Linked DNA regions of Homo sapiens. The protein of the gene in region 3 interacts with the protein of the main gene of each other region in a pairwise test. Each region holds a gene or a part of one and is shown on either strand. Other genes may lie near its edges. The genes, in order: PECR, ABCD2 and HAO2.

The links.
Region 1: the proteins of HAO2 (region 3) and PECR come close enough for resonance energy transfer, tested with the Homo sapiens proteins (one large-scale study listed by BioGRID).
Region 2: the proteins of HAO2 (region 3) and ABCD2 come close enough for resonance energy transfer, tested with the Homo sapiens proteins (one large-scale study listed by BioGRID).

What each region holds. Positions count from the first base shown.
Region 1 is NC_000002.12:216,040,768-216,043,886, forward strand, and holds part of PECR (peroxisomal trans-2-enoyl-CoA reductase), read right to left. Parts: intron 1-3,119. UniProt on the Homo sapiens protein: Participates in chain elongation of fatty acids. Catalyzes the reduction of trans-2-enoyl-CoAs of varying chain lengths from 6:1 to 16:1, having maximum activity with 10:1 CoA. Has no 2,4-dienoyl-CoA reductase activity.
Region 2 is NC_000012.12:39,553,804-39,557,461, forward strand, and holds part of ABCD2 (ATP-binding cassette sub-family D member 2), read right to left. Parts: intron 329-3,658; coding exon 109-328; 3' UTR 1-108.
Region 3 is NC_000001.11:119,382,263-119,385,920, forward strand, and holds part of HAO2 (2-Hydroxyacid oxidase 2), read left to right. Parts: intron 1-652; coding exon 653-804; intron 805-2,513; coding exon 2,514-2,791; intron 2,792-2,882; coding exon of another isoform or gene 2,883-2,924; exon of another isoform or gene 2,925-3,658. UniProt on the Homo sapiens protein: Oxidase that catalyzes the oxidation of medium and long chain hydroxyacids such as 2-hydroxyhexadecanoate and 2-hydroxyoctanoate, to the correspondong 2-oxoacids.

The DNA.
Region 1 (3,119 bases), on a different chromosome or scaffold from region 3:
TCCTGAGGCAGGAGAATTGCTTGAACCTGGGAGGCAGAGATTGCAGTGAGCCGAAATCATGTCACTGCACTCCAGCCTGGGCAACAAGAGTGAGACTCTGTCTCAAAAAAAAAGAAAAGAAAAAGTCCCTTATCTAATTTAATCCTCCCAACAGCTCTATGAAATAAATACTGTATGTGTCCCTGCATACAGGAACAAAATAGAGGCTTATAGAAATTAACTTTCTCACAATCATACGGCTAATAAGGGTAGAGCCAAGTTTCCATCTTAGGCATTCTCACCTTGGAGCTGCCAATCTTAAAAGAAAACACCATAGTGAAAGGCTGAATAATCTCATTATTCGGGGGGCAGTATATTCTTAAAAGATAGATGTACCCGCTTTCCTCAAAAACTGAAAAAAATATTTTTAATGATAAAAAGTGTTAGAATTACAAAAGAAAATCATGTCACTGAAGGCCTAAGGAAGAAGCTATTTGAAATTTCTTTCCCTTCTAAAGGTAAAACAGTGCAACCTGCGATAAGAAATAGTGACTGAAGTCTACTGTGAGAGAAGTGGAAAGATTCTCTCCACCCTCACTACTTGGAATTTTTTTCAGAAAACAATATGGCAAAACCATGTAGGTATTTCTTCTTTCCAACCAAGACCCTTAAAACTACAGTATCCTATGGACATCACCACATTGATGTTATTAGTAATGAAATACATGTGGGAGGGGAAAATAATAAGTAAAATTAAAGTTCTATACTGTGATATTGTGAAACATATATTTGGTCTTCAACCCCATCTCCCGCATACAACTCCTAATATCCTAGACTCGCCAAAGTGATGTGTTCTTATATGTTAATGATTGACTGATGGCTGGCAGCCCCTAGTTAGCTTCAGTATAGGGGCTGGTCACCAGACAGACCAAGGCATGATTACAGGGTTGGGACCTTCAGCCCATACCCACCCCACAACCTCTGGGGAGGTAAGAGGGGCTGAAGGTTAAGTTGATCACCAGTGGCTGATGGTTTAATCAACCATGCCTATGTAATGAAGCCTCCATAAAAACCCAAAGGACTGGGTTCAAGAGCTTCCAGATAGCTGAACACATGAAGGTTCCTGGCAGGTGGTGGGGCCAAAAAGGACACAGAAGCTACGTGCCCCTTCTCACATGCCTTGCCCTGTGCACCCCTTCGGCTGTATCTCCTGTAATATCCTTTATCATAAACCAGTAAATCGAAGTGTTTTCCTGAGTTGTGTGAGCTGCTCTAGCAAATTACTCCAACCCAAAGAGGGGGTCGTGGGAACCCCAACTTGAAGCTAGTCAGTCAGAAGTTTTAGAGGCCCAGACTTGTGATGGTGTCCAAAGCAGGGGGCATCCTGTGGGACTGAGCCCTCAGCCTGTGGGATCTGATCCTATCTCCAGTGTCAGAACTGAATGAGAGGACGCCCAGCTGGGGTCTGCTGCAGAACTGCTTGCTTGGTTGCTGTGCGGGGGAAGTAACCCCAAACAACTGGTCACAGAAGTCTTCCGTGCTAATGGTTGTTGTGTTGTGAGAGCAGAGGAAAACCAGTTTGAGTTTTTGCTCGCCTCTCACATACACCAATCATTTATTAACGCAAAAAAGGCCTTAAGCCTTGATCAGACTGTCAGCACCTGAAAGAGTACGTAGACCCTGGGTCCTTGATATGAAATTCAGATTCACCTGGGTTACATCAACCATCTATTAATTTGCTAGTAGCCACTTAATTATCTTTAACAACAGAAATTCAATACATTTGCATTTTATACCCTTTACTACATTTTTGGAGTGATTTAGAGTTATTAGCTTAGATAAACCTTTTAACGTCTGTGGATTTGTTTTGTTGTTTATAAAACTAGGATACTGGACTTTGTGATCTTTTAGGACCCTTCAAACCGCAAAGTTCTGTTATCTAGTCATGAGACACACACACACATAAAGGCATTTGCATGTAATATCAATATTTGATTTAAACTTATAAAACTTCTGGTTTTTTTTCTTGAGACAGAGTCTTGGTTTATCTCCCAAGCTGGAGTGCAGTGGCATGATCTTGGCTCACTGCAATCTCCGCCTCCTGGGTTTACGTGATTCTCCTACCTCAGCCTCCCAAGTAGCTGAGACTACAGGTGCCCGCCACCACACCCGACTAACTGTTATATATATACATACGTATATGTGTATATATATATACACATACGTATATGTGTATATATATATACATACGTATATGTGTATATATATATACACATACGTATATATGTATGTGTATATATATATACACATACGTATATATGTATGTATATATATACACATACATATATATGTATGCGTATATATATATATTTTTTTTTGAGATAAGAGTCTCACTCTGTCGCCCAGGCTAGAGTGCAGTGGCACAATCTCGGCTCACTGCAACCTCCGCCTCCCGGGTTCACACCATTCTCCTGCCTCAGCCTCCCAAGTAGCTGGGACTACAGGCACCCGCCACCAAGCCTGGCTAATTTTTTTGTATTTTTAGTAGAGACGGGGTTTCACTGTGTTAACCAGGCTGGTCTCTATCTCCTGACCTCAAGTGATCCACTTGCCTCAGCCTCCCAAAGTGCTGGGATTACAGGCATGAGCCACCATACCCGGCCAAATTTCTGTTTTTGTACATCAAAAATGATGAATACAGAAATTTCATATGCCTTCATTCAATATATATCTCAAAGAGAGCACAAAATAGCACCATAGCACCCCACCCCACCTAGCAGGCCTGATTCTTCTGCTCAGATATGTAAGCCATTTACTGGAGGAACAAAATGGAATTAAATCTTTAAAACTATAGCATGCTCTTGCCTCTTTTCTGTCTCCTCTTTCGAAACATATACTGAGAATATTTTTCAGGGTTCAAATTCCACCAACCTATGCATGCACAAAAAGCTCAGTTCCATAATATAGATAGTTAGATATTTTCTGTGACTAGGAATATTTCATTAAAAAAATCACATCATGAATATAAACATTTTGTACATTTTGATGTTCTATAAGAGAGCACCCTCATCTCTTAAGTAACTACTTATAATAAATTTTAAACCCCTGAACATGACACAGCATAAAGCTGGTGACTGCTC
Region 2 (3,658 bases), on a different chromosome or scaffold from region 3:
CTTGCTGCCTTTTTTTCTCTGTGCTTAGCTTAACATACTTCATGCAGTATAACAGAATGTCTTTGAGCCTTTATCTAATAATTAACTTTTAAAATATGTCAAAACAAATTAAGATGTCTCATCTTCATTTTTAATTGTTTTCAGCACTGAGTCTTCTCCCAAAATTTTACATAGTTCATTGAGTCTCTGCTGCATTTTGGGAATTCCAGCTAGCTGAGATTCTAGCTTTTGTTTTTCTTCACTCAATGTCAAACGGATAGCAGTATCCAATTGTTCAAAGCGCCAACCTCCTTCACCATCAAACTGTAATAAATGTGTGTGGTATTTCCTGCATAATTAAAATGAAATAATATTATTAGCCATAATGTTGAAAAATCATTTTAGTTGTAGGTTTATCATTCAAATTGATACCCAAAGGCAAATTTTAAGTAGGTGCTATTTTACATTTGAGTTTTAAGGACATATCAAAAAGTTAAATACTGTGATTTTTTTAAAACCCAAAAGTCATTAATCTGATCTTTAGGAAAATATTATTATTTTTTTCATATTCTGGATGTATATTAACTGTAAAGGAAGACATGCTGTTGCATGTATTTAATTTCTTCATAACTCAATTTGGCTCCTGAATAAATAGTAAGGCATTCTTAGGATGGGAGTAAGGAAAGGAAGCTGAGGAAAGAAAATCAACATTAAAAGGTCATAGAAAAACTAAGGAAAATAAAGGAAATACAATAGCAACTCATTAATACACCATCCTTTGGGAATGAGTTCTTCTGCATAAGTAAAATTTTCTCAATAATAAATATAGTTTAAAAACATTTTAAAAAACAACTCTTTGATAGAAGAAATGTTTTAAAGATACTTCCACATTTTTATATGATTTAATCTCTTTCTTATGGCTCAGTTTCATAATTAGGAACTTCACAGAGGTACAGAGATTATTTTACTGATGAGATAGGAGATGATCCACCTTGTCCTAAAGGAGGCTGAGGTCACCATTCTGTCGGCTTTGTGGGGGATATTTGGTGAAAGAAAAGTTGGCAGAGCTGGTCCTGCATGGCTGAACCACCTGCATTTTTTCACTGCTGAACTGGCCTATATTCTTATGTGTCCTCAATTTTTCTGCCTTCCCTTATAGTTTTTCTCACTTCTTGCTTCCTTTTAAGATCTGGTCTGTCATTGTTAACTATGATCGGTGGGCTTTTTTCAAGCAGTTTCCTCCTGCTTTTTAAAAAATTGAGAGATAATTCACATACCATAAGTTCATCCTTTAAAGCGTAAAATTCGATGATTCTTAGCATACTCACAAGCTCATGCAACCATCACCAGTAATTTCAGAACATTCTCTTCAACCCCAAAAGAAACCCAATACCCATCAGCAGTCTTTCTCCATTTCCCTTTCCACCCAGCCCCTGACAACCACTAATCTCCCCTCTCTCTATAGATTTCTCTATTATAGACATTTCATATACATGGAATTATAGAATATGTGGCCTTTTGTGACTGACTTCTTTTACTTATACAAATGATTTCAACGCACAAAGGGTGGAGGAAGATGGTGGAATAGGACTCTACAGTGATCATCCGCTTGCAGGAAAACATCAAAATTACCTACACACAAAAATACCTCTACCTCTACAGAAGCTAAGGAAACCAGGCAAGAGTTCACAGTATCTGGTTACAGAATATTAATAAGAAAATAGTCATTGGAGTGGGTAGGAAGTGCAGTTTTACATTCTCCAAGTCACCCATGTCCCAACCACAAAGTGCACAGCTCAGAGAGAAATACCATCTACTTGGGGAAAAGAGAGGGATGTAAGCATAAGAGTTTGCATTGGAACACACTACCAGGCCTGCCACAGTAAAACCCAGCACTAGACAGACTCCTACAGACCCTCACTTCTGCTGGTACCTGCAGACTGAGCCTCTGAACCTGCCTCAGTGCCAGACAGAAACCTGTTGTCCCTGTCAGACAAACTCAATTTCTGGTCTGCATCACCACGAACCAACAAACTATAGAAGCCATGGGCTCCAAATAGCCCACAGTGGCAGGCAGGACTCAGTGGCTGGGGGCTCAGATTTCAGCTCAGCACTGTGCCAGCCTTGGTGGTCAAGGGATTCCACCCTGACACTGCACCATCCACCATCGTCCTGGGCTTAGAGTGCTCTTGGTGTTGCAATAGCTGCAGCAATCACTATCTTAGAAACCACAACAGGTGACCTGCCTAGAATTTCTGGATAGGCTTACTGTCAAAGAACTTTTCTCAGACAAAGCTAGACTATGCAAACTGGAATAAATTTCTAGGTCTTTAATGTGTAGACATCAATTCATGACCAGAAGGATCAAGAACAATCAGGGAAATGGGACTCACCAAATGGACAGAATAAAGTGCCAGTGACTGACTCTAAAAAGATGGAGATGTTTGACCTGCCTGACAAAAAAATTAAAATAGTTGTTTTTAAAGTAAGCTTAATGAATAATATGGTTTTTCTGCATCCCCACCCAAAATCTCATTTTGAATTGTAATCCCCATAAGCCCCATGTGTCAAGGAAGAGACAAGGCGTAGGCAGTTGGATCATGGGGGTGGTTTTCCCCATGCTGTTCTCATAATAATGAGTGAGTTTTCATGAGATCTGGTGGTTTTATAAGTGTTTGGTAGTTCCTCCTGTGTTCGTTCTCTTTCTTGCTGCCTTGTGAAGAAGGTGCCTTTCTTCCCGTTTGCCTTCCACCATGATTGTAAGTTTCCTGAGGCCTCCCCAGCCATGCTGAACTGTGAGTCAATTAAACCCTTTTTCCTTTATAAATTACCCGGTCTAGGGCAGTTCTTTATAGCGATATGAAAACAGACTAATACAGTAAATTGGTACTGGTAGATGGGGTGCTGCTATAAAGATACCCAGGCCTAACATGGTGGCTCATGCCTGTAATCCCAGCACTTTGGGAGTCTGAGGCAGGTGGATCATGAGGTCAGGAGTTCAAGACCAGCCTGGCCAAGATGGTGAAACCCCATCTCCACAAAAATACAAAAATTAGCTGGGCGTGAAGGCGGGTGCCTGTAATCCCAGCTACTCAGGAGGCTGAGGCAGGGAATTGCTTGAACCCAGGAGGCAGATGTTGCAGTGAGCCAAGATCACACCACTGCACTCCAACCTGGGTGACAGAGTGAGACTCTGTCTCAAAAAAAAAAAAAAAGATTCCCAAAAATGTGGAAGTGACTTTGGAACTGGGTAACAGGCAGAGATTGAAACAATTTTGAGGGCTCAGAAGATGGGAAGATGTGGGAAAGTTTGGAATTTCCTAGGGACTTATTGAATTGCTTTGACCAAAATGCTGATAGTAATATGAGCAGTGAAGGCCAGGCTGAAGTAGTCTCAGATGAAGATGAGAATCTTCTTGGGAACTAGAGCAAAGCTGACTCTTGCTATGTTTTAGCAGAGACTGGTGGCATTTTGCCCCTGCCCTAGAGGTCTATGGAACTTTGAACTTGAGAGAGATGATTTAGGCAGAAGAAATTTCTAAGCAGCAAAGCATTTAAGATGTAATCTGGGTGCTCTTAAAAGTGTTCAGTTTTATGCTTCACAAAGAGATGATTTGGAATTGGAACTTATGTTTGAAAGGAAAGCAGAGCATAAAAGTTTAGAAAATTTACAGCCTGG
Region 3 (3,658 bases):
TTATGTGCAAAAATAATAATATTGTATAAACAATGAAAATCTTAGACACCTGAGGCTAAGTATGCATTTATTTAAAAAGTGTGTTTTGCATATTTATTATTTGTAAATTCTCCTACCTTCTTCTAAAGCAGTGTTTAAGTCAAATCTTCAAACTAACTAGCCTCTATCACAAAAGCCTCAATCACTCCCTGGGATTTGTTCTCATTCAGTGACCTTTTCTTACTTTCTGGAGACTTGGGCCTAACCTGAGAGGAAAAGAGACTGGAACCTCTTCCTACCTATTCTTTTCTTTTTAGTCCTTGTTATGATGAACCAAACCATCCAAGTGCTGCAGTGTAGTCTGGGAGGCATGACTCAAAGACACAGACTTCTGACAGAGCAAAGCAGGAATAGTGTGGACTTGGTATGCACAAAGTGGTTCAGAGAAGGTTGGGAAATGGGGAATGAGGTGTTGGAAGCGGCTTTCTGGAGATAAGTCTCCTCCTGGATCAACATAGGTTACTCAGCTCTCAGCCAACTGAACCCACCAAGGTTCCACAGGACCCTGTCTGGTTTAGACTTGTATCAGGAATCAGGGGGGTCCACCCCAGACAACGCCTCCCTGCTGCAGAATCATCTCACCAACAGAAGATCTCTTTGTTGTCCGGCACAGAATTCGCCTCCGTCCGCGGTACCTGAGAGATGTGTCTGAGGTGGACACCAGAACCACAATCCAAGGGGAGGAGATCAGTGCCCCTATTTGTATCGCACCCACAGGGTTCCACTGCCTTGTCTGGCCTGATGGGGAAATGAGCACAGCAAGAGGTATGAACCATCCCCACCTCGAGGCTCCTTTCCGGGAGGAGGTGTCCCTCAGAGCAGTGGCAGAGGCTCCAAGATTCTCTCTAGAAGGGCCTTAGGAACATAATCTGGTTAACACTAAGGAAGGCAGGAAAGGGAATGCTTAAAGCTACGTTTGTGTAACCTAAGATTGAGAAAACATTCATTTTCCATAATAAAGAATAGTTAGAGTGCAAGGGGGTTTACAGATGAATAAGAAGGTGCTAAAATTTAACCAAGTCATCCCTCAGAACAGGGGTGCTGGCCCTTCTGGCTCACACCATCTGTAGGGAAAGGGATGCTTAACGCAGCCCCAAGGCTAGGGCCCTCTTTGGCCCCTGATGGGCCAGGGCTAGGGCTGAATGGCAGACTCTGAATTTAGGATGAGGAGAGAATCACGACATTAGGTCCTAACACAAGGCCCTGGAAGCTGCTGTTGCCCAACTATTCCATTTTCCTTCTCTTCAATTGACCTTGTCATCTTGTTTGACAAAGATTTTATTGTTGGGTTACATCTCCTTCCCAGTCAACCTAATTCTCATCCCACATTCTCCACCACCACCACCACCACCACCACCGCCAATAATAATAATAATAATAATAAATAGAAAAGGAGAGATGGGGCTGAAAATGCTCTTGGGACTCTTTCGTAATCTTCACTCTAAGTCACATCTGTTTTTGTGAATTTCTCAGCGCTTCCCTGAGGTCTTTTCCTTTGACTCCATGATGAAGGAAGCTATGGATTCAAGGATTCTAGAGCTGAATGTGACATCCATCTTGATGGGGTCTAGGGACCAGGTCTAGCTAGGTTGAGATATTAATATCCTATATGAATGTGACTAGTTTACTAAGTCATCATGGTTGAATGTGTTGTTTGGGGGTAGGATGAAAGAATGGGGTATCTCCTGTTGACATGAAAAATTGAAAATGTTAATTTTTGATTAGCCCAAATTCTCTGCCCATGAGTTATAGTGGGACAGTGACATTAACCTGTTGGAGATTTCATTGAAATGAATAAAGTAGGAAATGGGAAATCTGCCAGTCAGCAGCAGCCATATGAACGTCATCACCATCAACTTCATTAGCACTGGTATCTATGCAGTACACCACTTTGCAATGTAAAGAATGCTGCCATAGCTAGTATCTTATTCAGTCTCCCAACAATCCTAAAGACATGTATTATTATTTTCCCTATTTTACAGATAAAGAAAATGAGAGACTCAATGCCACACAGCAAAGAAGGGGTAGAACTAGCATTCTTCTAATTTCATATGCTATGCTTTTTCCACCATGAAGTTCAGGATTCTCCACTGGAACTACATTCCCTCATCCTCTGCCCTCTCTAATTCTCTTCTGCTTCATTAAGGAGTTCATAAGAGGCCCAGTTGCCTGTCTGAAGGCTATAACACAACCAACATGATTCTGGAGATTGCATGGCATCTTTAGCTGGAAATATTTTGTTATCGAGTAGAGGGTTTGTAAGACAGGTTATACAGAGGAGAACCCAAAAAGGTTTAGGTCTCTCAGCCTGATCAAATTGCCTTCCATCCCTTTCTTACAAGGAAGCAGAATGAAATTAAGCTTTATCTGCATTCATGGGGCAAGATGGCCAGAGGCTACACAGACTCCCAAGGTTTTCAGCCCAGTCCAGAGGCCTCTGCCCTCCAGCCTGAGTCATGTCCTTTGCTTTACAGCTGCCCAAGCGGCTGGTATCTGCTACATCACCAGCACATTTGCCAGCTGTAGCCTTGAAGACATTGTCATTGCAGCTCCCGAAGGCCTCCGATGGTTCCAACTCTATGTGCATCCAGACCTGCAGCTGAACAAACAGTTGATCCAGAGGGTAGAATCCCTAGGTTTCAAAGCTTTGGTAATAACTTTGGATACACCTGTATGTGGCAACAGGCGACATGACATTCGAAACCAGTTGAGGAGGAACTTAACACTAACAGATCTTCAATCACCTAAAAAGGTAAGAAAGATACCAAATTCGATGGACAGGCATTACAAGAGGCAAATTTCCTTCCCTCTTTTCTCCTTTCCTCCATTCTTTCTTTCCACAGGCATTTATCGAACACCTGCTCTGTGCCAGACACTGCGGATAAAGCAGTTTCAAAAAGCAGATATGGTTCCTGCTCCCTAGAGTTTCCAGACAAGCACAATCAACATAAGACCAAATGTTCTCACCCTTGGAGCTGCCCAACTTGTCACCAGAAGTGTTCTGGCCAGAGCTGGATGCTGAGAAATAGGAAAGCCACGGAAAATATTTTTGCACGAACTGGAGAGTAAACTAAAAAAGTTCATGTAACATTTTCTACTTTATGACACACTCAGAAAATGCTAATTTTGGATGGCATACATAGACAAACTGACTCTCCAAAGGGGATGTTCATGACCAAAGTGACTGGCCAGACAGTCTAGACAGGCCAGGTTCTACCTTACTGCCTTGAAACTGAGGAATCAATATCTCTGCACACATAGAGCTCATTTGTGGAGCACCAGGATGCTATAGCACATTTGTTTGTAATCTCTGAACTAGGTGACTACAAAGGGGACCTTCCCCATTAAAATCCTACAATTAAATGGCAAGAAGTGCCTCAGAGAGAGACAGCCATGATAAAGTGGGAATCCCTGGCTATAGTAGAGATACTAAAGCCAGCCTTTTCAACCAGTGGGCAACTGTGACACCAAGCCAAGTAACTCAACAGTTCTCATTAATCACAGATTGGCCTTGAGGTGCTCCAAAATCCTTATTCAAATTCCAGAAGCACATTGAGATTTATAAATGTTTGATGTACATGGTGAGCCAAGAGTAAATATTGGGTAATAACTGATTTAG